6 separate regions of the Homo sapiens genome follow, and regions 1, 2, 3, 5 and 6 are each reported to be linked to region 4. Evidence: microRNA targets listed by miRTarBase, many of them from high-throughput screens and not tested one by one. Region 4 holds a microRNA gene; each other region holds the end of a gene's coding sequence.
Evidence for each region. The annotated mature microRNA hsa-miR-6086 reads GGAGGUUGGGAAGGGCAGAG and lies in region 4 at 1,989-2,008, opposite strand. An mRNA with a match to its seed (bases 2 to 7 or 8) in the 3' UTR can be bound and repressed. Matches are read on the target gene's strand: a 7mer-m8 pairs with bases 2 to 8, a 7mer-A1 pairs with bases 2 to 7 and ends in A, and an 8mer does both.

Region 1: the mRNA of MPLKIP is a reported target of hsa-miR-6086. Seed matches in the 3' UTR shown: 7mer-m8 at 4,591-4,597.
Region 2: the mRNA of ADAMTSL1 is a reported target of hsa-miR-6086. Seed matches in the 3' UTR shown: 7mer-m8 at 3,954-3,960 and 7mer-m8 at 2,945-2,951.
Region 3: miRTarBase lists IRAK1BP1 as a target of hsa-miR-6086. Seed matches in the 3' UTR shown: 7mer-m8 at 3,025-3,031.
Region 5: miRTarBase lists ATP5MJ as a target of hsa-miR-6086. The part of its 3' UTR that is shown has no 7-base or 8-base seed match.
Region 6: the mRNA of LYZ is a reported target of hsa-miR-6086. Seed matches in the 3' UTR shown: 7mer-m8 at 767-773.

The regions. Positions count from the first base shown.
Region 1 is chr7:40,128,381-40,133,445 of GRCh38, reverse strand. MPLKIP (M-phase specific PLK1 interacting protein) reads left to right here. Exons shown (of 2, transcript NM_138701.4): 2 at 187-5,065. The coding sequence ends at 387. Among named protein-coding and RNA genes, the nearest start is that of MPLKIP, 3.7 kb to the left of the region's middle.
Region 2 is chr9:18,907,559-18,912,634 of GRCh38, reverse strand. ADAMTSL1 (ADAMTS like 1) reads right to left here. Exons shown (of 29, transcript NM_001040272.6): 29 at 1,685-4,193. The coding sequence ends at 4,087. Among named protein-coding and RNA genes, the nearest start is that of SAXO1, 120 kb to the left of the region's middle.
Region 3 is chr6:78,897,611-78,902,686 of GRCh38, reverse strand. It overlaps IRAK1BP1 (interleukin 1 receptor associated kinase 1 binding protein 1), which reads right to left. Exons shown (of 4, transcript NM_001010844.4): 3 at 4,728-4,858; 4 at 1-4,623. The coding sequence ends at 4,353. Among named protein-coding and RNA genes, the nearest start is that of IRAK1BP1, 33 kb to the right of the region's middle.
Region 4 is chrX:13,587,225-13,592,300 of GRCh38, reverse strand. MIR6086 (microRNA 6086) reads right to left here and starts at 2,009; the gene lies at 1,955-2,009. It overlaps EGFL6 (EGF like domain multiple 6), which reads right to left. Exons shown (of 12, transcript NM_015507.4): 2 at 2,633-2,745.
Region 5 is chr14:103,908,584-103,913,659 of GRCh38, reverse strand. ATP5MJ (ATP synthase membrane subunit j) reads left to right here. Exons shown (of 4, transcript NM_004894.3): 4 at 966-1,372. The coding sequence ends at 994. Among named protein-coding and RNA genes, the nearest start is that of ATP5MJ, 10 kb to the left of the region's middle. RefSeq lists an enhancer at 2,374-2,874.
Region 6 is chr12:69,352,801-69,357,876 of GRCh38, forward strand. LYZ (lysozyme) reads left to right here. Exons shown (of 4, transcript NM_000239.3): 4 at 353-1,434. The coding sequence ends at 419. Among named protein-coding and RNA genes, the nearest start is that of YEATS4, 4.4 kb to the right of the region's middle.

The DNA.
Region 1 (5,065 bases), not on the chromosome of region 4:
CTTTAAGTACTTTTTTTAAAAAATAGGAACACTTGATTAAAGGAAGCATGGACTTTGTAATTGAACATTATTTAGGTTCAAGTCACAACTTTTAAGCAGCAATGTGATTCCCGCTAACCTTTAGCTAAAGGAAGAAGTACCAATTATCTTTACTAAGTGTTTTTTTAACTGATTTTTTTTCTAAAGGGTTCTCCAAGGACATCTACACCATTTGGATCAGGGCGTGTTAGAGAAAAAAGAATGTCTAATGAGTTGGAAAATTATTTCAAGCCTTCAATGCTTGAAGATCCTTGGGCTGGCCTAGAACCAGTATCTGTAGTGGATATAAGCCAACAATACAGCAATACTCAAACATTCACAGGCAAAAAAGGAAGATACTTTTGTTAACATTTCTGAAATTCAACTGGAAGCTTCATGTGTCAGGAACATCTTGGACAAAACTTTAAGTTGTGTTGATATAAATTTACCCAAAGATGATGACTTTGATTGGATAATTAGTAAGGTCTTTTTGTTATTTTTCATCGTATCAGGTATTGTTGATATTAGAGAAAAAAGTAGGATAACTTGCAACATTTAGCTCTGGAAGTACCTACCACATTTTAGAGATTTACCGTTTCCATATATTTAACATTCCTGGTTACATAATGGACATTTGTCTTTTAATGTTTTTTCAATGTTTTAAAATAAAACATTTTGTCTTCTAGCTATTGTGGTTTTGTGGTATGATAAAGAAGTAGACTTACTACAGTAATGCTTTGTAGTCACTTAGAGTTCATAGGTAAATGTTTTGCAAATTATTTTTGAAAATGAAATAGGTAAACCATCCTTTGAGCTGTAGACAGCTCTGTATTTGTTCGTAAATAATGAGGATGAGAATAACAGAGTTCTGTTCATACTCATTTTATCTAATGCTTCTGTTAAAATGCATTAAAACTTGAAGCCCCAGAAACCCATTTAAGCATAACTTTATACTCATTTAACTGGAAAAGGCAAGAATAGACCATGCATTGCTAAATCAAAGTGTTCTATCTGAATTTCTCTATACCTCTTAGCATTATGGAGTTAGTTTCTCTTGAGGCCAAAGAAGATAGCTACCAGCAGCCTCAAATCACTTCCATTGCAAAAAGAACATCTCTCATCTCCATCAATCCAAGAGAAGACAAATTTGCCATACTTAGATCATGTTTCTGTATTATTGAACCAATTAACTGTGGCCAAGGCCACAGTGAGACCTAATTAACTTGAATCATGGACACATCACCATAATGAGACAGGATTCTGTGACCTTGAACACCACTGGGCCTACCTGGAGTAGAGAAGTGGTTTTCCAAATTAAGGGATGCTATGGATATATACCTATAGTTCTGGAGAGAAAAATATGGAAGAATTGTTACCCCAACTATTTTTTAAAAATCAAGTGGTTTTTTGTTTGTTTTTTGAGATGGAGTCTGTTGCCCAAGCTGGAGTGCAGTGGTGCAATCTTGGCTCACTGCAACCTTCGGCTCCTGAGTAGCTGGGACTACAGGCACATGTCACCATGCCTGGCTAATTTTTGTATTTTTAGTAGAGACCATGTTTTGTTTTTTTTGTTTGTTTTGTTTTGTTTTTGAAATAGGGTCTCACTCTGTTGCCCACGCTGGAGTGCAGTGGCGCAATCTTGGCTCACTGCAACGTCCGCCTCCCAGGTTCATACGAGTCTCCCGCCTCGACCTCCTGAGTAGCTGGGAATACAGGCACGCGCCTGGCTCATTTTTGTATTTTGAATAGAGATGGGGTTTCACCGTGTTGGCCAGGCTGGTCTCGATTGAACTCCTGGTCTCAAGTGATCCCCTACCTTGGCTTCCCAAAGTGCTGGGATTTCAGGCATGAGCCACCGTGCCCAGCCCAGAACATGTATTTTTAGTATTTTTAGTATTTTTAGTTTCACCATGTTGACCAGGCTGGTCTCGAACTCATGATCTCAAATGATCCACCCATCTCAGCCTCCCACAGTGCTGAGTTTACAGGCGTGAGCCACCATGCCCGGCCAAAATCAGGTGTTTTAACATGTAACACAGACTCTAGGCATTTTGAAGTTACAAAATACGAAGATAGAGCTAGTAAAACTTTTGTTTCAACATTCCCAGAAAGAAACGTGTAAAAACAAAATGGTCACACCTCCTATTTGAACCATACCCACAGAAATTTGTTCATTAGGTATTTCACAGAGACTAGAAAATAAGAATGGAAGGCTTTTAGATTAATAAAAGCTCCATGAAAGCCAGGATTTTGGAAATGCTGTTTCTACAAGTTACTAGCTGGATGAGTTCACTTCTCTATGCCTCAATTTTCTCATGTGTAAGATGAGAAAATTAATAGTACCTGTGTCATAGAGGTGTTGTGTTGGAGGATTAAATGAATTTATGTATGAAACTCTTAAGCCAGAGCCTGGCACATAGTAAGCACTCAATAAGTGGTAGCTGTTACTTTCTCATTTACCCCCATTTCCTTAGTTTTTAGAATAGTGTCTGCAAGATAGTAGGTACTTAAGTGATAAATGGATGTAGAAATTCTGATTGTAACTACTATATTGTTCTACCTACACCCTGTATATAAAAGGGATAACTTAGTAATTTTTCCCCAGTATTTTAAAGAAAAAGTCCTTATTCCCAACATTATGTCTTTCCAGATATGTTGAGGTCATGATGTATAATGGAAATTAAAGCAAAGGGAATACTTTTTTAAATACTTTATTGAACTTTATAGGTAAGAAATGTTGTCTTTAGGAAATGACATTTGGAGATAATTTACTGAAGCATCTCTTAGATCATTGGGTTATTAGTAAAGACGAAAACAGAAGTTAGGATTTTGTGCCAGTGTATTTATATCATATTTGGAAGACATTCAAACTGTAACTCTTCTAATGGTCTACGTACATTTTATTTCACTGTAAGTGTAACATAAAACAAAGGTAAAATTTCTTGCTAACGCTTACCAACATCTACTTCTAGAGACCTGGCCTGAGTTTTTTAAGAAAAATTTTTGTCCTCAGGAAAGATGCATACACTGTAAGTAGTGTATTCAGTTATCAAAATTCTTGTGGCATTGGCCATTTGGTTTGTTACCGTTACTCTATTTTTATTTATCTGAGTAAAAGGAATTGATTATTCTTTAAAATGAAAGGGATTGTTTTTTAATGTTCTAGGATACACATTTTACCTCTATAAAAATGCTGAATAACTTTTTAGAAAAACTTACAATTAAGTATACATCTTAAAAATTCATATGCTTAAAGGATGGAAGTGTAGTCTATAGTAGAGTCTTCAAACAAGGGTCTACATACTCCTGGGAATATTAAACTTTCTAAGGGATATGCAGGCATAAATAGCTTTAAGGGAATGCAAATTCAGATCGCAGTGCCCATGTAAATCCTTTATTAAAATTGACCTACATAAAAACATATCCATATCAAGGGATCATGCCAGTTCTTTTTCCCTGCTGCCTTTTGGTAATCACTGGTCTCCCATTTTACAAAAGAAACCTATGGCAAGTTGTGTTTTGCAGAAATGACCCCAACAATATTTAAAGTCTCATACCCTTCTCGAACCTTGCCACTACCCTTATCAAGATGTGGAGTTACGTCCCTTCCCTTTGAACATTAACAGACTTTTTTTTTTTTTCAAAGAGTTAGAGGGTCTCCTTATAGGGGCCTCCCTGTATTACCCAGGCTGGTCTCTAACTCTTAGGCTTAAGGGGTCCTCCAGCCTCGGCCTCCCAAAGTGCTGGAATTACAGGTGTGAGCCACCACGCTTGGCCCCTTAGCCAACTTCTGACTGCCATAATTAAGAGAATATGATGGAAGTTAATCTATTTTCATTGTGGGTAAAGTGTGGTGTTAAAAATGAGTTATAGGCCAGGCACTATGGCTCACACCTGTAATCCCAGCACTTTGGGAGCCCAGGTGGGCAGATCACTTGAGGTTCGGAGTTTGAGACCAGCCTGGCCAATATGGTAAAGCCTCGTCTCCACTAAAAACACAAAAATAAGCTGGGCATGGTGGCGCGCGCCTGTAATACCAGCTACTGGGGAGGCTGAGGCAGAAGAATCACTTGAACCCAGGAGGCAGAGGTTGCAGTGAGCCGAGATAGTGCCACTGCACTCCAGCCTGGGTGACAGAGTGATACTCCATCTCAAAAAAAAAAAAAAATAAGTTATATTGGCCCGTGTGGAGATGTTCAGAATTCAGATGTATTATCAAGTTGGGAAATAATGATGAAAGTGTTCAGTGACCTTGCCTTTTTGTTTCTGGACTATTCAAAAAATCATTTCCTTTGTGGGTACATTGTGTGAAAGGAAAGCAAAGAGCATGAGTTTAACATGAAGGAAAAGATACCTTATTTTTAGGCAAAAAGCAAATGGTGAGGCTCTTTGCCTCATCTACCTAAGAATTAAAATATTCAAGATTAGTAAAAAAGCATGATTAGTTTTGGTGAATCTCCTGTGAAGCAAACTCTGTATTTCCACCATTCTTTTTTTTTTTTTTTTTTTTTTGAGACGAAGTCTTGTTCTGTCACCCATGCTGGAGTGCAGTGGCACGATCTCAGCTCACTACAACCTCTGCCTCCCAAGTTCAAGCAATTCTCCTGCCTCAGCCTCCCGAGTAGTTGGGACTACAGGCATGTGCCACCACACCCAGCTAATTTTTTGTATTTTTAGTAGAGGCAGGGTTTCACCCTGTTAGCCAGGATGGTCTCAATCTCCTGACCTCATGATCTGCCCAGCCTCAGCCTCCCAAAGTGCTGGGATTACAGGCGTGAGCCACCGCGCCCGGCCCTCCACCATTCTTGATAATTATAAAGAGCCTGATGAAGATATCTCAATTCCTGTCTCAGTAGCATAGTTTGCATGATATCAAGGAGGAGGAAGTTAAAAGTTTCATGTTTACTTCTGACATACTAACATTACATCTTCAAGTTAAAAACATTTTAGAAGTAAGTTCATGAATTTATATTTTCTGAAACATTTTCAGATTCTTAAGAGAAACATTTTCATTAACCCTTGCCAGTACATTTATTATTAGGTTCTA
Region 2 (5,076 bases), not on the chromosome of region 4:
GAAGTAATGTAAAATATCAAAAATTCTGTCAGCCCTGCCCTTCATCTCCCTGTTTCTTCCAAGGTAACTTAGATGATGCTGATGATAATAGCAATTAACAGTCAATAAGTGCTTCGATGATATGCCAGATACCCCCCAAGCTTTTTTTTTTTTTTGAGATGGAGTCTTGCTGTGTCACCCAGGCTGGAGTGTAGTGGTGTGATCTTGGCTTACTGCAACCTTTGCTTCCTGGGTTCAAGCAGTTCAATGTGAATTAACTAATGGTTTTCACACAGCCCTACCTGATGAGGTATGCTGTTGCAGGAAGAAGAAACTGAGGCATAAATGAGATTCAGTGACTGTCGACCACTCTGATCTTAATGGGATCAGGGATTTCCTGGAAATCTTTGAGGCTAAGCAAGGACTCTGTGCTTTTGGCTGGAAAAATTTACATACATTGTATTGGGGCCCTTCCCACCATTTGAGCCTTACTGGGTTTTTGCTCTGGCATTTCCAGCTCCTCCCTCCTGCCGTGGGGCCTCTGTAAGACATTGTTTGGTTGCTGGTCTGTGAATAGGTATAGTTTTAGCATTGGCTTTTTCTTTAAAGCAAAACCTAAAACCTCTTAAAAAAGTAACTGAAATGTCAAGAAGAGCTTTCTGGTATATTTTCACACTGTTCGACAGGCCTGTGGTGTGCCGGGGCGAGCTGCTGGCAGACCGGCTGGAGTTGGGCTTTCTGGAGCAGCTCTCACCATAGACTCTGCATGGACATCTTCTCCGCCCGGCAACATGCTGCCCTTTCACTAGGGCCTGTTTATAAAGAGTTCTACAGGTGTGCTTGTTTCCCCCCCGCACTTCCTACAGTAGCTGTTTTTATTAAAATGCTTTAAAAATAGGGAGCTAGAAGTGCTATCATGGTAAAAGAACTGCCTTTAGGGTAGGAGAAAGTGACAATTTCAGTAAAATGTCCTGTTACTGTCATTGACCGACCTTAAAGCAGTAGGGAAGAATGGCATGCGTGCCCAAGGTGGCTGTGGCACAGCAGTTGCAGGCAGCGGGGTTGGAGGCAGCATGGTGGGTCAAATCGAGTCTTCGGCTAGAGTAGGACTGCCTGACTTTCAATCCTAGTTCCCCCAGCTGGGTGACCTTGGGCTTCTTTGGGCTGCTATTTTCCCATATGTAAATGGAGATAATCATAGGGCTAATGTGAGGATTAAATGTAGTTGTGATCTATAAGTGTTAGTCTTTATTAATAGCATACATCCGAACTTTCACCATGCAGCTGCCTCCCGCTGTGTGTGTCTCTGTTGGTAGGAAGCCTGATGAGTGAGGATAATTCCACACCCAAGTCTGCATCTCTCCCAAGCGATGTCCCTGTTTGCTTCACTTCCCGAAGGTACTGTGGCTCCCATCTTCCCACCACATAGGGCTGTCAGTGAGTTAACTGTCGTCTCATTTGGCTGCACTCAGCCTGAATGTGTGTACATCTACAAACGCAGCTTCTTTGGGTTTATTTACAGAGCTAGCACTTCTAGGCATGGGCCCCCAGCTTCCTGTGTAAAGATGAAAACTGCAATCCTTCCACTTCAGCCAGACGCAAATAACTGGCTGGGAACCACCCAACTGACAGGGACTTCTCTTGCTCCCTGCATAAACCACCAGGGGAAGGAAGGCTGAGTTTAACAGAGACTCAGACGACAAGATTTAAATAAATAAGCTGTATTATCTGTACAAAAAATACAAATACAGTTTTGTGTTTTAGAGGAGAAAGTGCCTCCTTCCACATTAGCCAGCAGCCTTCATTGTCTTGTGGTGCTGCTGAGTTGCAATTCACAGAACAAACATTAAATGTACATTCATTTCATGCAACGAGCATTCTGCTTCCCACCCAAACCTAGGTTCTGCCAGCTCACTGAGACCCACTGCCAACTGCTCCAACCCAACATGGAGCTGGAGGATGCTTGCTCTTTAGGAAATGTAAATAGTGACCACTGATTTTCAATCACTATCGAACTAGAAATAATTAACCACATTAGTAGTAGTATGGAATTTGTCTGTCTTTATCATTCCATGCATAACTATTATGCCACAAATGAATTCCCTCTTACTGCCTCAGCATCCCATGTTAGTTTTTACAACACATCCTGTACAGTGAATGGATCCAGAGTTAAACACCAGGTTCTATTAAAAATAGGAAAAATATAATAATCACTACTGAGTTTACAGGAACACAACTGCAGGAAGTTAGTTAATAAAGTCCCCCCAATAGTTTTGTTTCTGGATGACAATGTACAATTATTAATATTGCACTTTTTTAATAAGAAATCCTAATAAATATTCACAAAAGATATACAGACATAGAAAACATTCTTTTTTATTTTAAACAGACTTTACACTGATTTTTTAGTAACATGATTTCTTAGAGCCTGTTTTTGTGGTGAAGAAGAAGGAGACCCAACTTAAACCTGTCCACAGCTCACTAGGTGGGGACACAGATTAATATTGTCTTCCTCTCAAATTTTACTTCCAGGCTGGCTGGAAATGCAGCCCTGATGTCAATGGTAGCCCGGGGTGAGTGGCATTTCATGAGGGGAGGCTTATCTGTGGGTAAGGGACTCTGGCCACCCTTGCTCCTAAACTCAGGCCACGCGAGGGAAGGAGGCAAAAATTACTTGGCCAAAGCTGCTCGGCTTAATGAGGATTTTGCCGAAGAGTCCCAGAGTTTTCATTTTGCTGCATGACTTTGACTTTGCTCCAGCCGCCTCACCACAGCTGATGAGTGTGGCTGCAGTGTGTGAGCTGCTTTGCCAGGGTGCTGCCTCCACCACCCCGCCTTGCTAGATAAATACTACATGCCGGAGGACCTGCAGACCCTGGGGTGGAGGCTGGGAGAGGGAGGGTGTACTGTGGACACGCATAAACCCATTGTCCCACCCCGGTCCCTGGGCCAGCTCTGGAATGAAGAGGTTGCTACAACCTGACAGCCTGACAGATACTCTCTGGCACAGTGACTAGTTAATGGGTTGATGTTGATAAGTTAACCATAGTCCCTGGCCCTTCGGTGGAGCAGCAAAGGTCCTAGAAGGCAAAAAACCTGGGCCATTCATGCTCAAAATGGCCCTGGCCCACAGCAGCAGTTAGTTAGTGCGGGGCTAGGGGACTTCGGATTTAGATAAAGAGGTGCCAGGGTGGCCTTACTGCATGGCGAGACCCACCTCTCACTGGCTTTGCTGCAGCTGCACAGGCAGGACGTTGACTCTGATAGCTTGGGAAGTGGGGACTCCCACGCAGCGCAGTGCTCTGTTGTGGGCAGCAGGGCTCTGAGCATGCGCACATGCATGGGATCAGAGCTGGTCCATGAGCCTCATGCAGCCTGGAAGCCCCTGCTCACCCTGCCCCACTGGGGAACACCACAGGCTCCTTTTTGCTTCTGTCCCTTCCCTCCCCTCCCTTCCTCATTTTCTGCAATGTTGTGTGCCTTAGAGCCTGCTTTGTTTGCTTTTTTACCTCTCCCTACTGGTGATCTGAGTTCTTCTCTCTCTGCACTCACCCACTAGAAGAACTGAGTGAGTTCTGGGCTAGTTTCTGCCTCAGCATGGTGTCCCCTCCCCATTTGTCCTAACTGTGACTAAAGGGACATAGATGGGGAAGAGGAGACAAAGGAGCAAAACACTCCTGTGTTTGTGATAGTGCGCTTCTAGGAAAGACACAGGAATTTGTCCAATGTTTGCACCAATAGGCTACAAACCTTCTGGCTCCCTGCTGTCCGCAGGGGCTGTGCCTGCCTCTTTCTAGGTCTTTGAGACCCAGGTTTGGGAGGGAGGAAGCTCTTCAAGGGAGCCCCCACTGTCTGCCTGGCCTGCTCTGCAACCTCCTTTAGACATCTGTCCTTTCCTTTCCCAACATCCTGTCCTCCAGCTAACTGAAAGAGAAAACACGCGGACGTCCTTATGCTTGAAGGTGGAGGTGGAGGAGGTTGGAAGGGTGTGTGTGGAGTGGGGAGGGGGAAATAAATAAATAAAATGAAGAAAGCTTAGGTTCTGTCCGAGGTGGTTGCGTGAGTCCTTCGTGTGGCCAGGGTAGAGTTTTTCCCCACACCCTATCTTCACGCTTTGCCACAAGTTCCACAGCAGCGAGATTTAAACTGGCTGAGTTGGCAGAGTTTCAGCTGTTTCACCTTCTCGCAGTACCTGGTGGTGTCTCTGCACTCCACTGGGAAAGGAGGACGGGGTCGGGAGAGGAGACAGAAAAGAGATGTGAAACAGAGACTAATGAACGCAGCCTGTGTGAGGTGCAGCCGGGGGTTTCAGCCACTGGGGTACATCCTGGGGTCTGCCTTGGCCACCGCTCTCCAGCCTAACTTTGACAGAGCTCAGCCACTTGCTCCCCAAGGCTGCCAACAGCAGGGGTGGCACCAGCCTGCAGCTGTCTGGCTGAATGATGGGGCCCCTCCCTGGGCTGTCTGCTTGTTTTCTGCAGCTCCCTCTACTTCCTGAAGGTGCCTGTTTTCTCTATCTTCTTGGGATTACCTCATCTCCTAGGTGATCACCTCTCCCCCTAGGCAAACCTGCCTTTTCCCGTGGGTTTTGGTATTTTAAGTAAATGACTCTCCTCCTCAAGATGGTTCCCAGCACTGCATCCTCCCCGACTTTGCAGGAGTGTGAAGTGAGACTTGCGTCGGGTGCCCCCATCCCCAGGCACTTGGGCCTACTTTCTCTGTTAAGCTTTATTTTCATGTGCCCTCCAGTCTCTCTTCCTTCTACCCATCATGCCTTAAACACAGCACCAGGACGTTCTAGTTCAGTGTTGGCACAGACTAGATGGTCTTAAATATTGTGCTGACTTGGTTTGGTAAGTTTTAACTATGTGCGTTGAATATTGGCGCTCTCTGAGCATGGTGAGCCACTGACACAAACATGGGTTAACACTACCCGAGTACAAAGATCATCCATCCCCCAGCGTGTAAAAAGAAGTGGGCTATTTGCCTACATGGCGTCTGCCTTAGTGTTGGGAATTTATTGCTCAGTGAGGCCCAGTTGGGGAGAAAACTGCACAGCTACATTTGGTTTTTACTTCCTACTCTTTGCCTCAAGCT
Region 3 (5,076 bases), not on the chromosome of region 4:
CGTTTCTTCTGCTTCAGCCTCCCCGGTAGCTGAGATTACAGTCACACGCCACCACGCCTGAGTAACTTCTGTATTTTTAGAAGAGACAGGGTTTCAATATATTGGCCAGGTTGGTCTCGAACTCCTGACCTCAAGTGATCTGCCTACCTCGGCCTCCCAAGTGCTGGGATTACAGGCGTGAGCCAACGTGCCTGGCCTACCCGGGCATTTTAAATAAATTTAGGCCACACTAGGTTATGAGTAGAAGCTATTTGGGGCTGGGTGCAGTGGCTCAAGCCTGTAGTCCAGCACTCTGGGAAGCTGAGGCAGGACTGCTTGAAGCCAGGAGTTTGAGACCAGCCTGGGCAACATAGCAAGACCTTATCACTAATAAAAAATTAGCCAGGCCTGGTGGTGTGCACCTAATGTTTCAGCTACTTAAAAGGCTGAGGTGAGAGGATTTCTTCAGCCCAGGAGTTTTTAGGCTGCAGTAAGCTATGATTGAGCTACTTGCACTCCATCCTGGGTGACAGAGCAACAGCCTCAAACAACGACAACAACAAACTCAGTGATTTGGTTGCAAATACCATATATGTAATAGTAAATGTCTAAATGTTAGCTTAAACTAATTTATATAGGTCTTTTTTTGTTGGAATAAATAAAGCATTTGCTTTCATTTTGTAATGCAGATAATCATATAGTAACTCCCACATTTGATCTCATAATTCATGCTTTTTATAGGCTATAAGAACTCCTTACTATTAAATTCTTATCAACAAATCTGACAGAGTTGAGATATCCTTAGCCCATATTCCTGAGAAGGAATATTACAAAACAACAATTATAGGATGAGGTACAGCATCTTGAGTTACAAATTATTTTTCTAAGTCCTATTTGTTTACACTGAACTCAAATTGACCGTCAAATAAGAATACTGATAAAAGTACATTGCCACTATAAAAAATGTAATTTTTAGTATGTAATTGAATGGAATCCTAAAATTCATTATGAATTATCAGTAATATATGAAATCTTATTTTAATAGCATTTCCTTTTAATAGCACTTCCATTTAGGATACAGTGGGTCTGTTTCAAATATCCTATTTAGAATTTTTGTTTGTCTTTCAGAAAATAGAAATTATAACTTCCTACTTTCTGGAAAGATTTTTTTTTTTTTAAACAGAGTTCAAAAGAAGGAAATTCTAACAGGATTAAGTTTAGGATAGGTTTATTCTAGTAGACTTTGTGGCACAGGTCCCCTAAATAATTCATCATAAGATTCCAGTGTATGCCATGTATCAAGAAATTAAATTGCTATCAACTGACAACTAAATTTGATACCCTTTAGTATACAGAATACTACACATAAGTCTTTCCAATCTTTGAATGATTTCTTCCCTAAGCTCTTCTATAGAAAAATGTAGGATTGTATACTTTACAGGATTTTTTTGTTTTTTTTGGAGACAACATCTTTAAAAGTTCCTGGAAATTCTAAAAAGTGCCTACTAACTTAAAAAAAAAATTGTCTTTAGGTATTTCATGCTAAGTTGGAAGCTTCTTTATCAAATATGATGCAACCAAATACAGCATGAACCCATAGCTAAAAAAAAAAAAACTACCCATGTGATTAAATTTTTGTTGAGAACGAACAATTTTTTTCTTGATGCACAACCTCATTCTACTTTTCTGTACAACTGGATAGTAACTTCTTTTTGGTAATAAAAATTCAACATATGTTACATTGGTTTTCTGACAACTTTATTTTCAATATGGCTATTTAAAAATTCTTCCTAATGGAGGATTTGGAAAAGCCAACTTTTAATTGAGCCAACAATAATCAAACAATGCAGCTGATATATCAGCTACTATTTTCAGAGTGACCGTTATGTGCTAGCAATTGTTCTCATGATCATATATTTATCAACTTTAATCCTTATAATAACACTGCAAGGTTAAGTACTATTAGTCTCTTTCATTTGTAAGGACAAAGGAAGATTAAAGAGATTAAAGTAACTTGCCTTTTATCCAGCTAGTAAATTTTCCCAGCAAATATTTGAGAGCATACTTGATATTGGCCCTGAGACTACCTCTGGGGCTGGGAACACAACTGTGAACAAGACAGACAAGATCTCCACTTTCAAGGAGCTTACATTCCAGTAGTAAGGTCAGGATTTGGATATAATGGTGTTGAACTCAAACTCTTCTTAGCTTCTACTCTTCCCCTACAGCAACACTCCAATAAGATGAATAAAATTGTTTCAGGGCCACTTTAAAAAGTGGGTGAAGCTGGACACTATATACTGGAATATGTTGTAAGAAAGTACTGTTGGTATATAAACATCCAGATTTATCAATGGAAAAACTCTATGACCTAGATGTATAGAGAATGGAAAGCCTATGCTGCATAACAGACATGGCTTATGATTGCCTGTAGATAAAATGTAATTCTTACTGTAGATAGCAGTAATACATACTTGCTGTTAACTTTCAAATGGCCTTAAGAATCATTATTATCTCAGTGTTTGACCTTGGTCTGTTCAGCAAGGTAGTCTCAAGCCATTTGTGGCCTTCAAGTACTTGAAATATGGCTAGTGTGACTGAGGAACTAAATTTTAAATTTTATTTAATTTTAACTAATTTAAAAACTGATACTTGATCCAGTTACAAGATTTTTTAGGCATGCTAGAACAACCTGGGTATGTGAATCTCTTTTTTTCAACTGTACATTTTAGGAAATTTAAATACAGATAAAATATTTCTGATGAAAATTTAGCATGTGAATTGAGATGTGCTATTATGTAAAAATATACACTGAATTTTGAAGATAAAACAAATATCTCAATTTAAAAAATACTGATTACATGCTGAAATAATATTTTTGATATATTTGGTTAAATAAAATGTTATTAAAATTAGTTTCAACTGTTTCTTTTTTAAAGTTTTATTTTTAAAAATGTGCGTACAGGGCCAGATGCAGTGGCTCACGCCTGTAATCCCAGCTACTTGGGAGGCTGAGGCAGGAGAATCGCTTAAATTCAGGAGGCAGAGGTTGCAGTGAGCTGAGATCGTACCACTGCACTCCAGCTTGGGCGACAGAGAAAGACTCCATCTCGAAAAAGAAAAATAAAAAAACATGTGCACTAGGAAATTTTAAATTACACATATCGTTTGCTTTGTATTTGTATCACTCTAAGGAGCCCTGTTGGAGTCCGATCCAAACATTAACTCTTTTATTTTTGGCATCAAAACATTTTCCTATTATACCTCATTATTCTTTTGTAAAAAGCTATGAATTATTTATCACTATTTCTATTCATGTTGTGAAGTTGTTAAGGTTGGGGTTGTTATCTGCATCTTACCAAAATGGTCTCTGGTCCTAGTAAAGAAACTGTTAGATGTGAGATAGCCCTCAGTAGACTTCACCTTCCTAAACATATTGCTGGGTGTGGCAAGCATGAAAGACCTTGGCTGTTCTTTACCTGGGCCATTTCTCAGTATTGAGTTTTGAGTGAGCATCTATAAGGGATGAGGCAAAGAGCAGGTTTGCTTCTGTTCATGGATAAAAAGCAGTGAACCCTCCAAGCTCAGTATTCTTTACCTACAACAAAAGCCTGCTGTATATGTAGCCATATTGCATATGGCCATATCATTTTGCCCCCATGGGACCTGGGACAAGGGGAAGCAATGAGAATGTGCTGATGCTCATGCTCCTTGTTGTGCCATGAGTAATAGTCCTTTGTTTCTGTCTGGGAATCTCAAGTCTTCTGTTAGCATCCATGAAGAAGTAACAGGGTAACTACTTAGCTTCTAACTAAAGTAAAATTAAATATCAGACCTGACAGGATGCACTTAAAATTATGTATTTATACTCATTTTTAGTTGTGGAAAATTATTAGGTTTGATGGGATATAGGAATTCTTTTCCATAAAAATTTTGTCTTACAATTTAAAAAATTTAGCTAACTTATTGAAGCCTAGTTTTTACATAAAATTTGGTTTTATATAAAAATGTGGCTGAGAAAATTTTAGCTTAAATATCTTTAAAAATTATGAAATGCAAGGGTCAATATCTGTCCTTATAATAGAAATATTACACATGTGCTTGTATGAACTGTCAGTATATAAGTATGCACATAATACATTTATTATCCAAGAGTGTTTTTCAGAGTAGTCTTTTAAAAATAGAAAGTGAACATAAGTATTCTGTGGGACTATATTCAAAGATTTATAGATTTTGGAAAGAAATAGCTTATCTCCTATACCATATATATATATATATATATATATATATATATATTCAGGACAAACGTAAACATTATAAAAAGTATAAAAATAGGTAAAAAGATACAAGTACAATATAATTTGTTTGGAATTTCAAAGGTGCTTTTTTCTCTTCTCTTTTCCCTTTACCTCAAAAGTTATAAATACTTTTGAAGCAGCATGTATTGTTGCACTTTTGATTTTTTGTTGTACAGTTAATGAACTTGAGAGTCTGGATGACTGGTGATCATCTATTTGGCCTTCCCATTCTTTTGTTTCTTCTTCTTTGATTAGTAAAGGTTTTCCTAAGGTTTGGCCAACAAGGTTACAGACTTCTTGAGCTTTGCGCCACGCATTCTCAACAGCAACAAGACAGGCTTGCCGTCTTAGGAATTAAATGGAGAGATTATTAATATGACACTCAATGAAATGTAGCACTGGATAGTTTTGTTTAAAGAATATCTTAGTTAAAGATGTGCTTAAACTTACCGAAGATTCTCAACAGAACCTGGAGTATGATAGAACTGGGGTGGGCTGATGACAACAGAGCTATCTAGCTTTTCAACAAGAAAGTTACAAATATTTTGCATTTTTCCAAATTCAGTAAATGTAATGCAGACCTGTAAATGAAATGACACGATATTATTTTCATGTCTGATGTACTGTTTCAAGATTTTCTCTACATGTAAGTAAAAAAAGTATAGCCAGACTATGAGGTCATTTTATAGTATGTAACAGATTTTTAAAAGCCTATTTGATACTTATAACTAAATTATTTTGTTCTTTAAGATTTTTGCTTTTGAATTTTCAAATTTATCTAATATTGTCTTGAATATTA
Region 4 (5,076 bases):
CAGTGTCTACTTTGTTATGGATATGTACTTGGAGTTGCAACTTTAAATTCAGATGTTAGAAAAATAAATCTTTTTTTTTTTTTTTAAGCCCTGAAGACCTCTAGTTGTTCCCTGGAAACTGATTTCCAATGTGGTCCAGACAGGAAAGCCCAGCATAAATGCCAAATAGAACATAGGAGAAATGGTGAATAATACCCTTGCTATAAGGTTAAAGCTTCAGTAAGATGTTTTCAATTTACAGTAACTTTGGATCTGTGACTTCAACAGCCAATCGACAGCAAGGGAAATTCAGTTTGTGTTTAAAATGGCCTGAGATTGAAGCATGATTTAGACAAAGTAAAAGTCTTATTTGGTTCTCCCCCAAACTTCTCTATCTGAAGCTTTTCATCAGGTACTTGTTTATGGACAATTCTGTATTTCATCTCACTGAAGTGGCATACATTTTAAGGTTAATGATATCGAACTGATGAGACCCTGCCTTGGGAGGAGATTTAGACAGGGTAGAGGCTGAGAGCTAGAAGGCTCCAGGATACATAGAGGCAGGGCTTCAAAAGGAGTGAAGGGCAAATAGATGGACAGAGGGGAAGGCCTGGGTAGACTGTGACCTCACAGCCTGGGGTCTGGCTCTCCTTGTTGGGGCAGGTTGATGTGTATTCTTATTATCATGCATCCCACAACTCTGGCTTAGAAATCAGAAACCCAGCAATCAGGGAATAACTACCCTGTTATTTGGTGCTTCAAGAAACATGACTTTACCATCAAGAAGGACCATGCAAATTGGATAAAACATGATACACATTTTAGATCTAAAAATCATTGCAATTTAAGACCTGAACATTTGACTGGAGCAGTAGGTGTGCTGACCGTCTCTTCAGCTTGCAAAACTTGCATAGTGAGCATTTTGCTTGAACCCCCTGCACTTGCCCTTTTAACACCTTGCCTTCATTTATTCACCAGCGACATGCTGGGTCTCACAAGTTTTATGGCAGTAGACGCTGATGTTCGTGCAACTGTAAGAGAGACTCTAAATCATGTGTTTCACGTGGTTTTTGCCCCTTTCCACCTGACTGACTTCAAATAAAAATGTGTTATGTTGTGTCTAGCAAAAGAATAAAGCCACATTTAATCCCCCCATCACCTGGTGCTTTAATGACGAGAAGTCTGTGATGAGAATTATTGGTCCTTCCTGAAGGAATGGTAATTTATGAGGTATTTTCTATGCATGCCAGGTAATGAACTCACCCTTTAATGCATACATTCCTTACTCTCAGAGGTAGGTATTGCTCTCTCCAGGTTGCAGAGGAGGAAATTGAGCCTTAGCTAGCTTACCTTAGCTAGCTTGCCCAAGGTCACCCACGTCAGTCTGGTTCTCAATGCCCTTGATCATGACACTATCAATCCAATCAGGATGAGGACCCACCCTTTTAATTGACACAAGTCCCAGGAGGATATTCTAACTTCCTTTATCTAAGTGGGCAATGATGATCTTTGTTTTTGTCTAGTATTTTTATGCTCTTGTCATCTTGTCACAAGCAAACTATGATGGCAGAAGGTTTTGCATAATATGGAACATGTGGGAACGATATCAATGTTTTCTATTGTTTTATAGATTTTGGATATTATCAAGTTCTGACCCCACTTATGGTCAATCCAGATATTTTTTAACCAGCCAGAGAGAAGGAGGTTGGGGCAGGAACAGACTAGCAAAAAGAAGGTAGCATTGTTATTCCTAAAAATAGCTAACATGTTAGTGCTTTTATGGGACCTGCAACTGTGTTGTTATCCCATTTAATAGATAAATAACTTAGGATGAGGCACATGCTACCTACTGAAGGACACAGGGACAGTGAGAGTAGACTACTGCCCTGAAGGAATACACCCCTGGTGAGACAGTCAGGAGGAATGTGGATTTGGTTCTGCTACACTGCCAGTGTTGGTCGTTATGGAAAGTCATAAAAAGAAAAACAAGGCAAAAACTTTATGCTCATCTCTGCCCTTCCCAACCTCCTTGAAATGATCAGAGGCCTCTCTCGGAGTTCCTAACACATAGTCTGAGAAACAATGTCCAAGGCAAATTATGGTTCCTTGGTTTGCAATGTACAAAAAAATCAGCAAAATACTTAAAATCTTTGCATATATGCATATGTACCTTGAAAGCATTTAGAAATTGGCAGTATGAATTTTAAAAATGTGAGTTACAAATCTATAAGCTAAAAGGTGTACTTATTTTGTGGCTGAAGCCTACTGGTTGGGTGATTAATAATTAAAGTTTATTGCATTGGAAATCACTTAAATTATAATTAGAGGAGAAATTTACCAGCCTGCTTTTGCCCATCTTAGTTCCTTTAGATTAAAAAGAAAACCAAAAACAAACAACCCAGTCATACTCATTAAGATAATCACAAAAATAATTGACAAGACAGTCTTCTAAAATAAATCATGCCAAGTATGATGGCGTCAGCCACATTTTGTCTGGGAAGAGATCTCATAGGAACCCAGACCTTGGTTATTGGTAGTTATGCATGTCCTTGCCTGAGAGATCCACTGGCAATTTTGTGGCAGTTCATGGTATGACAGATAAAAACCTAAGGGCCCTGATCCAAGTGCAGGGTCTGAGTTTTTACAAAATTACCTTCACAGACTCCCTTGCTGTTTCTTCTCCAGCCGTAGCAGCAGGCCAGTTTAGTTCCATAGTGACAGACCCCAGGCTGACGTGCCGATGCTAACAACCCGTGATGCCTTGCACTGCAGATAAAGAACTACATGTTAGTATTGAGAAAATAGAAAAGACAACAGAAACTCTTCCCTACTACTAAAAGAACCAGAGATGTCAATTACCTGGTTAATTTCAACGAACCCGCAGTAAGTGCTAAATTAGATTTTGAAAACCTGAATTTTGGGGTTGCCAGCCTTCCTCAATAATTAGTTTCAACCATTTCCTTCTTCCCCACGGTTAAAAGAATCTATAAAACTAGGGCACATGAAGATGTCCAAAGTATATGTTTTTGAACCTTGTAGAGTGTCACTTTTCAGATCTGCTCTGTATACGCACAGCAACTATCCAGTTCTTTGTCTATTTCAGTCACTTTCTAATCCTGTGGCTTTGTCCCAGACCAGAGCTCTGCACTTTTATCCCACTGGCACCTGGGAACCATTGAATAGACTGGAATCAACATACACTATAGATGATTAAGAGTTGGAAGGGCTCGTTCAGCAAAGCCCTCTTATGTTACAGAGGAGGAAACTCCAGTCCAATGGAGTGGAGTCACATCCCCAGCAGAGCTGGGTGTTGGGAATTCTAGCCCAGGGCTCGTTCCCATTGACCTCCTGGAAACCCAATTTGCTAAACTGCTTAATTTTAGAGCAGAGATCGGCAAACATTTTCTGTAAAAAGCCAGATGGTAAGTATTTTAGGCTTTGTAGGGCCATAAGATATCTGTCCAAGTACAAAAGCAGCCATAGGCAATAGTAAACAGATGCGCATGACTGTGTTCCAATAAAACTTTATTTATGGACACTGTAATTTGAATAGCATATAATTTTCCTGTGTCATGATATGGTATTCTCCTTTTGCTCCATCTTCTAACATTTAAAAATGTAAAAACTGTTCTTCGCTCATGGGCTGTTTATAAAGAGGGGATCACCTAGCTTTGGCCAGCAGGCTGTAGCTTGCCTGATCTAGATGCCTGAAAAAGGTGAGCCCCCTGTCCCCCACCAAGTGCCCCCAAGTAGTGCCGCCATGGATGAAGCTCACTGCATGTTTACCTACTTACTGTCCTGGTATTGGACAGGGTTGCTACCAGACTTTGAAGGAAAATACTTGCATTGTATGTTTAGTGGAGGGCTGTGATTATTTCCTTACACATATTAAATACACTGTAAAAATGTTTCCTGGGCTCTTTAACAGACAAAGGAATGCACATTTTACCATGTGCTTTCTGCTACAGAACTGAACTTCATGCAAGTTAATAATATCTAAGTCAAGGTCGGGAAGTTAAACAACCTTGTAGATTTCCCTCAAGATCTGCCTCTCCCACAAATGTGATTACTCAGTTAAGAGCTATAAAGATATGGTCTGAGACATTTCATTTACTGAGAGCACCAAATGGGAGGATGATTTTAACATTTACTTTTTCTTGAAGAGAACTTTTTTTCATTTTTTAATGGAATTAATTTTAGGGATTCATAAGTCACTCAAACATTTAGAATAGGGTTTCTCAACTTCTACACAACTGATATTTTGGGCCAGATCATTGTTTGTTGTTGGGAGGTGTCCTGTGCATTGTAGGATATTTAACAATGGTCTTTATCTACAGTTGCCAGTAGCACACACCCCTCTAGTTCTGACAAACGAAAATGTCTCCAGACATTGCCAAATGTCCCCTGGAAGGTAAACTTTTCTTTCATTAAGTAGTAGTACTTTAAAGCAAAACATTTATTGTGCATTTGCTATGTACCAAGTACTGTCTCAGGCACATAGAGTACAGTGACGAAAAGGGCCTGGTCTTTGCTCTCTTAAGTTCACAGTCTATTGGAAACATATGCATTCAAGTATAGGATAGCATGCTAAATATTATTAAAATGCTCTGCTAAAGAGTTTTGACTGAGAAATAATGCAGCCATGTGTCTAATCTAATTTGTATATTCCTAACAATTCTGCAAGGGATACCACAATCTTGACCCAGTCTGCGCCTAACAGTTTCCAAAGAACCTATGATAAACTCCAATATTCTGTAGCACAGCAGGGTGACTACAGTTAGCAACAATGTATTGTAAATTTCCAGGTAGCTAGAAGAGAGGATGTCAAATATTACCAACACATAGAAATGGTAAATACTCAAGGTATTTGAGTATTTGATGGGTACCCCAAGTACAACTGGATCATGATATAGTCTATGCATGTAACACTCACATGTACCCCATAAATATGTAAAATATTTTGTATCAGTAAAAAAGAAGAAACTATGGGCAACTAACCATAAAGTATGCTGAGTAAATAAGTGCCAGTCCAAATACAGTGATGTCCTTAATAATTTTTTTACTTTAGTATTTTAAAAATTGAGATATAATTTACAT
Region 5 (5,076 bases), not on the chromosome of region 4:
GTCCTAGAAGTTCCCTAATGATGTCGTTTTATTTTGTTTATTGTTTTTTGAGACGGAGCCTCGCTCTGTCGCCCAGGCTGGACTGCAGTGCTGCGATCTCAGCTCACTGCAAGCTCCGCCTCCCAGGTTCATGCCGTTCTCCTGCCTCAGCCTTCTGAGTAGCTGGGACTACAGGCACCTGCCGCCACGCCTGGCTAATGTTTTGTATTTTTAGTAGAGATAGGGTTTCACATAGCCAGGATGGTCTGGATCTCCTGACCTTGTGATCCACCCGCCTCAGCCTACCCGTAATGATGTGTTTTTAATGGTTTGGTTTTGTTTTTTGGGTTTTTTTTTTTTTGAGACAGAGTCTCGCTGTGTTGCCCAGGCTGGAGTGCAGTGGCACAATCTTGGCTCACTGCAACCTCCGCCTTCCAGGTTCAAGCAATTCTCCTGCCTTAGCCTCCCAAGTAGCTGGGATTACAGGTGCCCGCCACCATACCCGGCTAATTTTTTGTATTTTTAGTAGAGATGGGGTTGGCCGGCTGGTTTCAAACTCCTACCTCAGGTGATCCACCTGCCTTGGCCTCCCAAAGTGTTGGGATTACAGGCGTGAGCCACTGCGCCTGGCCTTTAATGTATTTTGAAAGAAAGCGCCTTATAAATTTATGCCAGAGTGACAATGAAACTGTAGCCATTTGAATGTTACACAAACCCAGGACTGGCTACATGAGTTTGAGGAGGAGGTGTTTCCCTGCCTCTCTCTTTGCGCTGTGGGTGACCACTGCCTGTCTGCTGTCATTACATGAACCCTTAAGCACTCTGGGTGTTTCATATAGAAATAATCCTACTTTTCAATAGTATTGAAAGGTGTCATTTATCTTTTTGGACTGTTGATCAACTTCTTTTGATACTTGTTTAATAAATTACATCCAACTTGTTCCTTCCTTCTTAAATCATATTTATATATGCATCTCTTTCAAAAGCTTCAGCGCCTGCTCCTGGTCATCACTAACCAGATTTACTTGGAGTACATGTGAAAGAAAACGTCAGTCTGCCTGTAAATTTCAGCAAGCCGTGTTAGATGGGGAGCGTGGAACGTCACTGTACACTTGTATAAGTACCGTTTACTTCATGGCATGAATAAATGGATCTGTGAGATGCACTGCTACCTGGTACTGCTTTCAGTGTGTTCCCCCTCAGCCCCTCCGGCGTGTCAGGCATACTCTGAGTAGATAATTTGTCATGCAGCGCATGCAATCAGAATCTCACTGAGCCACCCATCATTGTGAAATAATTACCTCAGTTGTACAGGACTTGGTGATCAGGATCCAGGCACTCACTTGTATTCTACTGCTCAATAAACGTTTATTAAACTTGATCCTGCTACTTATCTTGTGGCCTCTCTGAGCCTCTTGTTTTCTTATTTGGAAAATGGAGATGTTAATTATGTAAGCTCTAACTTACAGTTATTATGAGGATAAATAAGAGAAAGATTTAAACTATGAAGTCCTTTAGAAATAAGGTAGCATTCAATGACATAGTAGTTGAAATTATAAGCTGTAGGAGAATATTGCATCAGGAAATAATCACAAGGCAAAGTACATAATAAGCCAATTGAAAAAAAAAGCCAATTGATTCTAGTTAGGCTAGTATCAAATGCATACTGCATAATATTTGTCTCCATCTAAGACAATTACCAAGATCCCTAAATTGTGCGCTAAAAAGATTCTAAAGCAGCAAGCATGGGGGTAAAAGTGAGTCCAGTTTGAAATCTGGCACTCTGCAGGTGGGTAGGAGAGCAGCTGTGGAATGGGGGTGGTGGCTGCACCCTGGGTGTCCTGTCCTCTTGAGACCATCCTGTTTATCATCTGTGTCTCTGGCATTTAGCCTCATTAGGTCTGGCCCATGGTAGATGTCCAACAGATGACGGAGATCTCTCTGAGCCTCAGTTTCTTTTGTAAGACAACCAAAACCTGTCATGGCTTCCTCCAACAGCCTCAGGGTTGTTGGGCTGTGTGAGAAGTTTGCAGGAAAGCATTACACAGCATCAGTGGAAGTCAGCGTCAGGTCGTGTGAGATTCAGAGGGTTTGGTTCTGACACAGGAATCACATTTTTCCTGCGAACGTATTTTGTTCTCTTCTGCCTCCAGAAGATGAATCTGCTGTGGTACAGAAAGGCCCTACCTTTAAAATTATCCATCTGCCCAGCTGCTCAGGCTTGAGAGTGCATTAGAATCACCTGGAAGGCCCTAACAGCCAGCTGGGCCCCAGTGTTCTGATTGCACTGCTGTAGGAAGGAGCCCAAGAACTTGTATGTCTAACAAGCATCCAGGACATGCGGATGCCAGGACCCCAGCTGGAAAATTTCTAATGATACAAAGAACCCAGGCCTGCCCTATCACAGCCTTCACATCCACTGCACTGGCACCAGGCTCCAGCCCTGTGTCACGCATCTTAGTGCATTTAGTCCACCTTAGAACCTAGTGAGGCATCAGTACAGGCCCTGACTTTCAGAACAGGAAACAGGCTGAGAGGCAGTAACACGCTACAGATGTCGCAGTTAGCAAGCACTGGGGCTAGGACTTGAACCCCCAGAACCTGAACTCTCCTCCAAAGGGAGGTGAGGACGGATGGGAGCTGCCCTCCCCACCCCCACCCCCCACCTCACCCCCGGAAGCAGAGATTGATGTGTCTGACCCAGGAGGGCTTCCCCACAAAGGCTGGGCCATTCCTCTTCTCCCTTTACTACTTAAGGCTTCCTTTGGCAAATTACCAGGGTAGGTTGGGCCCAGTGGCTCACGCCTGCACTTTGGGAGGCTGAGGCGGGCAGATCGCTTGAACCCAGGAGTTTGAGATCAGCCTGGGCAACATGGCGAAACCCCATCTCTACAAAAAATAACAAAAATTATCCAGGCGTAGCGGTGTGCGCCTGTAATCCCAGCTACTGGGGAGGCTGATGCTTGAGGATTGTTTGAGCTTAGGTCGAGACTGCAGTGAGCCAAGATCACACCACTGCATTCCAGCATGGGCGACAGAACGAGACCCTGTCTCAAAAAGAAAACAAAAAATAATTGCATTTGCTATCCCAGAACTCACTCACACACTGAATCCCTCGGGGTTTTGGAAACAACCAGGTCTTGTCCCGAAGGCAGCCTGTAGGTGGAGCTAGAGAATGTCACCTGGGCTTCCCCGTGGGCGAGGAGCACGGGGCCAGGAGGATCTGTTGAAAGGAGCATTTGGAGGGCGGTGCCAATGGGCAAGAGGTATGCACAGAGAGCCACGGGAGTGGGCAGGGCCAGTTCAGGAAGGAATCCCAGAGGCTTTTTGTCCCAAAGCCTACGCATTCGTGCTGCTCTGACTTAATGCAGTGCTCAGCTGTGCTGCAGAGTAACGACAAAGGCTGGGAGGAGAGGAAGTGGCTCACAGGCAGCTGAAGGTGTCATTTTAAACAACGTGCTCTAAGTTAGCCTCAGATGAGACTCTAGGAGAAGGCATGGTGTTTCTTCTTGATTGTCACTGTATCCCAGGGGTACACGCACCCCAACCAGAGGCTTTGGAGGGTGTGCTTCCTGCCACCCTCAAGGGAGTTGTCTCTGTCAAGCTAACGGATCCCGAGTTCCGGGGTGCCAGGCCGTAGTCTGCTTCATTTTTATCTGCACAATAACCCGTGAGCCCATACCATCACCCCATTTCACAGCTGAAGAAATGGATGCCCAGACAGGATAAGTAGTTTGTACTAGAGGATAACTACCTGGCTAACAAACCAACTAGTTAACTGGTTGGCCAGGATTCAAAATCTGACCCGCTTCAGAATCGGGACTCGGACCACAGCGTGGCTTCAGAGAGCTCCTTCACCTGTGCTGGGCGTGCGTTGCCGTCGGGGATGCGGCGGTGGTTAGCACACGTTCTCTTCACTCCCTGAACACAGAGGCTAGAGAACAGACCTGCAGACACACAGTGCCAGTGCTTGGCAGACACAATCCTGGACGTCTGTGCTGTTAGGAACCGTCTGACGGGCGCCAGCATCAGGCCTCGCTGCACACGGGCCTTGGAGCAAGCACAGCACCTGCTCAACAGCCAGCTCTGAGCACGGACCCTGCTTCCACCCTTCAGACAAACCAGCCACCAAGAGGCATTTCTGGTACGTACAGAGAAATGTGAACGTGGACTGGGTGTTAAGTGATGTTGAAGTGTTAATCTTATTAGGTGATCACCACCACAATAGTGGTATTGTAGTTATTAAAGAAAATTTCTTTGGTTTTAGAAATGGAGGTGCAGGCCGGGCACAGTGGATCATCTGAGGTCAGGGGTTCAAGACCAGCCTGGCCAACATGGTGAAACCGTGTCTCTACTAAAAATACAAAAACTAGCCAGGCGTGGTGGCACGCACCTGTAATCACAGCTACTTGGGAGGCTGAGGCATAAGAATTGCTTGAACCCAGGAGGCGGAGGTTGCAGTGAGCCGAGATCGTGCCATTGCACTCCAGCCTGGGCGACAGAGACTCTGTCTCAAAAAGAAAAAAGAAAGAAATGCAGGCGCAATTATGTAGGTGTGAAATGATACCTAGGATGTACTTTAAGATACACCAGCAAATACTAGCCAGTCAAAACAGATTGGGGGGACGGAGTCTCTAGATGGGATGAGATCGGTAATTGTGTAGAGGGTAGGGGGTGGACGTCTAGAAGTGCATTACAGAATTCACTCTGCATACATTTTAACTTTTCCCAATAAAAAGTTTTTAAAAATACTTTAAAAAAAAAGCCATGTGATGGAAGCCTGTGTTAGTATTATAATACCTGTTTGAGAAGCTGGCACTGTGCAGCCCCAGGAAATGAAGGTAACGACTCTGCGGGCGGCTCTGTCAGACAGTGACTGTCTCATCACCACTCTTCACAACAACCGCTCCCCTGATGTCTCTTACTACAAAGGAAGTCTCAGCTTTTTCACTTGTTTTCCCTCTTAAAGAATGATGTAATATAGGCCAGAGTTAATGAACACCTAAGTCTAGAGGGAAAATGTCAGAAAACTCTCATTTAGTTAGGAATAAAAACTTATTTTTTAAACCAGGCACAGTGGCTTATGCCTGTAATTCC
Region 6 (5,076 bases), not on the chromosome of region 4:
GGAGGTGGAGGTTGCAGAGGATTGCGCCATTGTACTTCAGCCTGGGCGACAGAGTGAGACTCTGTCTCAAATAAATACATAAAAAATAAATGTGGAATTCACTTTGCAGTTGCTGCTGTACAACGCACATTACTCAATCTTTATGTTCGGCATTCTATGCTCTACTGAGAAATTTGGGTAGGAGTGAAGTATTTTGTATACATATCTTCATTTAATAAATAGCAATAGCTGGGTCTATCTTACTATTTTATCTATTGATAAAATATTTTGTTTCCCCAAGGAGTGCGAAGTATGTATATTACAATGAAGATATGTTTTAACCTTTCACCATTTGCTTCATCTTTTTCTACAGGGTGGCATGGAGAAATCGTTGTCAAAACAGAGATGTCCGTCAGTATGTTCAAGGTTGTGGAGTGTAACTCCAGAATTTTCCTTCTTCAGCTCATTTTGTCTCTCTCACATTAAGGGAGTAGGAATTAAGTGAAAGGTCACACTACCATTATTTCCCCTTCAAACAAATAATATTTTTACAGAAGCAGGAGCAAAATATGGCCTTTCTTCTAAGAGATATAATGTTCACTAATGTGGTTATTTTACATTAAGCCTACAACATTTTTCAGTTTGCAAATAGAACTAATACTGGTGAAAATTTACCTAAAACCTTGGTTATCAAATACATCTCCAGTACATTCCGTTCTTTTTTTTTTTGAGACAGTCTCGCTCTGTCGCCCAGGCTGGAGTGCAGTGGCGCAATCTCGGCTCACTGCAACCTCCACCTCCCGGGTTCACGCCATTCTCCTGCCTCAGCCTCCCGAGTAGCTGGGATTACGGGCGCCCGCCACCACGCCCGGCTAATTTTTTGTATTTTTAGTAGAGACAGGGTTTCACCGTGTTAGCCAGGATGGTCTCGATCTCCTGACCTTGTGATCCACCCACCTCGGCCTCCCAAAGTGCTGGGATTACAGGCGTGAGCCACTGCGCCCGGCCACATTCAGTTCTTATCAAAGAAATAACCCAGACTTAATCTTGAATGATACGATTATGCCCAATATTAAGTAAAAAATATAAGAAAAGGTTATCTTAAATAGATCTTAGGCAAAATACCAGCTGATGAAGGCATCTGATGCCTTCATCTGTTCAGTCATCTCCAAAAACAGTAAAAATAACCACTTTTTGTTGGGCAATATGAAATTTTTAAAGGAGTAGAATACCAAATGATAGAAACAGACTGCCTGAATTGAGAATTTTGATTTCTTAAAGTGTGTTTCTTTCTAAATTGCTGTTCCTTAATTTGATTAATTTAATTCATGTATTATGATTAAATCTGAGGCAGATGAGCTTACAAGTATTGAAATAATTACTAATTAATCACAAATGTGAAGTTATGCATGATGTAAAAAATACAAACATTCTAATTAAAGGCTTTGCAACACATGCCTTGTCTGTTTTTATTTAGACTCCTATAGTGTCTCTGAAGAAAAGAATACAGATATTTGAAAAAATATGATTTGGTGCTCTTAATATCTCTTATATCGTCACTTACCTCACTTAAATAGTCAGATATTGCTGGAGAAAAATTCACAAGCATGCTGACAGGTCTCACTTTAAATTCATAACCATAAATCTCAAATGAGCCCTCAAGTCTGCCTGACCATTTTAGTTACTTCTCTACAATCCTTCCATTTTTATGTCCCTAGTCTCCAAAATGACTGTTACTATTTTACTTTTCCTCTTCTCTCTTCAAAGCCTCAAGACACACATTCAGCCTCCTCCTCTGCCCCCTTATCCTCCACCCTCCTCTGCTCTCAGCAGATAACCTGGCCTCATATTACACTTCTAAAACAAAAGCAACTTCATACCAAGCTTTCCCTTCTACATCCCAAAGCAGCAGTCATACCTTCCCACAGGCCCATCCTTCCTTCCTTCCCTCCTATTATCAGGATGAAGAGCCTCTGCTCCTGCCAACAGCACTGACTCCACATGCAGTTTCCCTCCCATCCCTCTCACTACTCCAAGTCAGGCTGTTTCCTGCATCCCTAGTTTGTCCCTTTTAGCTGGATCACCTCCATCATTCTACAGTCTGCCCTAGTAACCTTCCATCTTACAACAAATACTCCACTGACCCTACATAATCCTCCAACTGCAACTCCATTCTCTGCTCCCTTTACAGCAAGACTTCTGGGGAAGTATGTCTGTACTTACCAACTCCATGACCTCACCTCCCAGTGTCTTTTCAACCCTCTCTAATCTGGCTTCTATCCTCACCCAGCTGAAACTGCTCCTCCAGGATTTCTCCCATGATTCCTCAGTGCTAATTCCAGTGATCATCTTGTTCATCTCAGCAGCATTTGACAAAGTGAACCGCTTCATACTTTTAGCAGTTTTTTAATCCCTTGGCTTTTCCTTATTTACATCCTACCTCACTGACTGTTCTTTCTCAGTCCTTCTTGCTCACTCTTTCTCTGCTATTTAATTTCTAAATGTGAGAGTGCCTCAGGGCTCAAGTCTATAATAATTTTATATACTACATATTTTACTTATTTGTCTCTTCTCACCAAAATATAACTTCCAAAATGACAGAGGTTTTTCCACTTTTTAAAAAAACATTGAAATAAACTCAATCTTTTAAAAAATATAAAAGTACTGTACAAAGATCTTTTATTTTTCAGAACTGTTTTGAGAGTAAATAGCCAACATGATACCCAATGGCCCTGATTACATCAGTGTGTAATTCCTATAAAGACATTCTCCTGCATAAAACCTCAAAACAATTATCCAAATTAGGAAATTAACACTGATACATTACTACCACCTAGTCATCAGATTCCACTCAATTTCATCGATTGTCCCAATAAGACCTTCATAACAAAAGCATCTAATTCAGAATCATATTGTATTTGGTTGTCATGTTTTTTAAGTCTCTTTGAATCTGGATTATTTCCTCAGTTGTTTCTTTCTGGACTTTTTATGACCTTGCCACTTTTGAAGACCACAGACTAGTTATGTTATAGAATGTACCTAAGGTTTTTCTGGTGTTCTCTCGATTCCATTAAGTTATGCATCTTTGGTAGGAATACCACAGAAGTGATGTTCTCACTGCATCCTTTCAGGTGGCATTCAGTTTTTGCAGTTTTGATTTGCCCCATTATTGATGATGTTCACTTGGATCACTTGATTAAGGTGAGGCCTGCAAGCCATCTTCACTGTAAAGTATTTGGGGAGGAGGTGCCTTGAGACTACTGCTCATCAAATTTTCAGTTTGTTTGTTTATTTATTTAGAGGCAGGATTTCACTCTGTCGCCTAGGCTGGAGTGCAGTGGCGCGATCTCAGCTCACTGCAACCTCTGCCTCCCAGGCTTATGCAATCCTCCCGCGTCAGCCTCCTGAGTAGCTGGGACTACTCGCACGCGTTACCATGCCTGGCTAATTTTTGTATTTTTAGTAGAGATGGGGTTTTGCCATGTTGCCCAGGCTTGTCTGGAACTCCTGAGCTCAAGCAATCTGCCTGCCTTGGCCTCCCAGGTGCTGGATTACAGGTGTGAACCACCGTGCCTGGTCATGCATTTATTTATTATATCAGTATGGACCCATGGCTTCTATTTTATTCAAATCATAAGGAGTTATAGTCCATTACTATTATTTATTTTGATGTTCACACTGTCCTCGATTTGGCCAGTGAGCCCCTGCAAGTTGTCTTCTGTGCCATTTCGACATATTTCCATCATTCTTCAAGCACTTTCTTGTTTTCTGGCACAAGATATTCTAAGGCTCACCTTGTTCCTTCCTTGCTTCCAAAAATGGAAAAGGCATTTCTCCAAGGAGCCCTGATTCCTCAAAGTGCATAATAGTATTAAAAAAACAGGATCTGGGCACTAGGGTATCACTGTTTCCAGGCCCTATCAGTGAACAGAGCTGGAAGATATATGTATTTACACTATATTTATCTCTATATCTATCTATTTATATTGAAAATCATGAATCCACACCAATATCTCCAATTCTAATCTCACACCACAGGATTCACTCTAGTTTTCTTCTTTCGCATGTTTTAACTCTCTTCTCTGACAGTAAGTAACTTAGCATCCATTATACTCATTATCCTTAAAATGTATCCTTAGTACATTTACGTATTTGATGGGTTTGCCTGTATGTAACCAATTCCCCAACTCTGCCCAAGTGCTCTCCACTCAGGCTCTGACATCCCTCAGTGGGTTGCTTCCTTCCCCAACACCTGGACACCCTCCTTACCATGATACATCTCTGATTTTATAATATGCTGAACCACTGTCCTGATAGGAAGAATAGAAATTTTTCACTCATTCCACTTCTGTATTCTAAACACCTAGAAGAGTGACTGGAACATGGTACATGCTCAATCAATATCAGTTGATCGAATAAATCTCTTGCTGATTATTTAGTATGTTCCCTCCAAACTGAACATTCTAAGCTTTTTGTTTTTGAGACGGAGTCTCGCTCTGTCACCCAGGCTGGACTGCAGTGGCGCGATCTCAGCTCACTGCAACGTCCGCCTCCTGGGTTCAAGCGATTCTCCTGCCTCAGCCTCCCGAGTAGTTGGGACTACAGGTACTCGCCACCACGCCTAGCTCATTTTTGTATTTTTAGTAGAGAGGGGGTTTCACCATGTCAGGAGATCGATCTCCTGACCTCGTAATCCGCCCGCCTTGGCCTCCCAAAGTGCTGGGATTACAGGCGCGAGCCACCGCGCCCAGCCTTTTTTTTTTTTTTTTTTTTTTTTTAATTAACTCTTCAAGGCCACATGATTCCAGTACAACCGCTTGCGGGGTTCCAAGCCACTTCTTGGCTATGTAAATGCAGCACATAGACTAGCCATGTGAGGGCAGCAGAGGGCCACTACATAGGTGCAACCTTTGGCTTCAAAATTCTTGGACCATTCTGACGTGATTAAACTAAAAACGAATGAGTTTATGCATATCGAGATACCCTGAGGTGTACAAAGGATGAGTCAAGGTAGCGGAGAGAGAGTTGAAGAGTGACAGCTGAGAAACAGAGATAGGACATGTCCAAGAAGTGCCAGGATAACCCAACAACACAGGC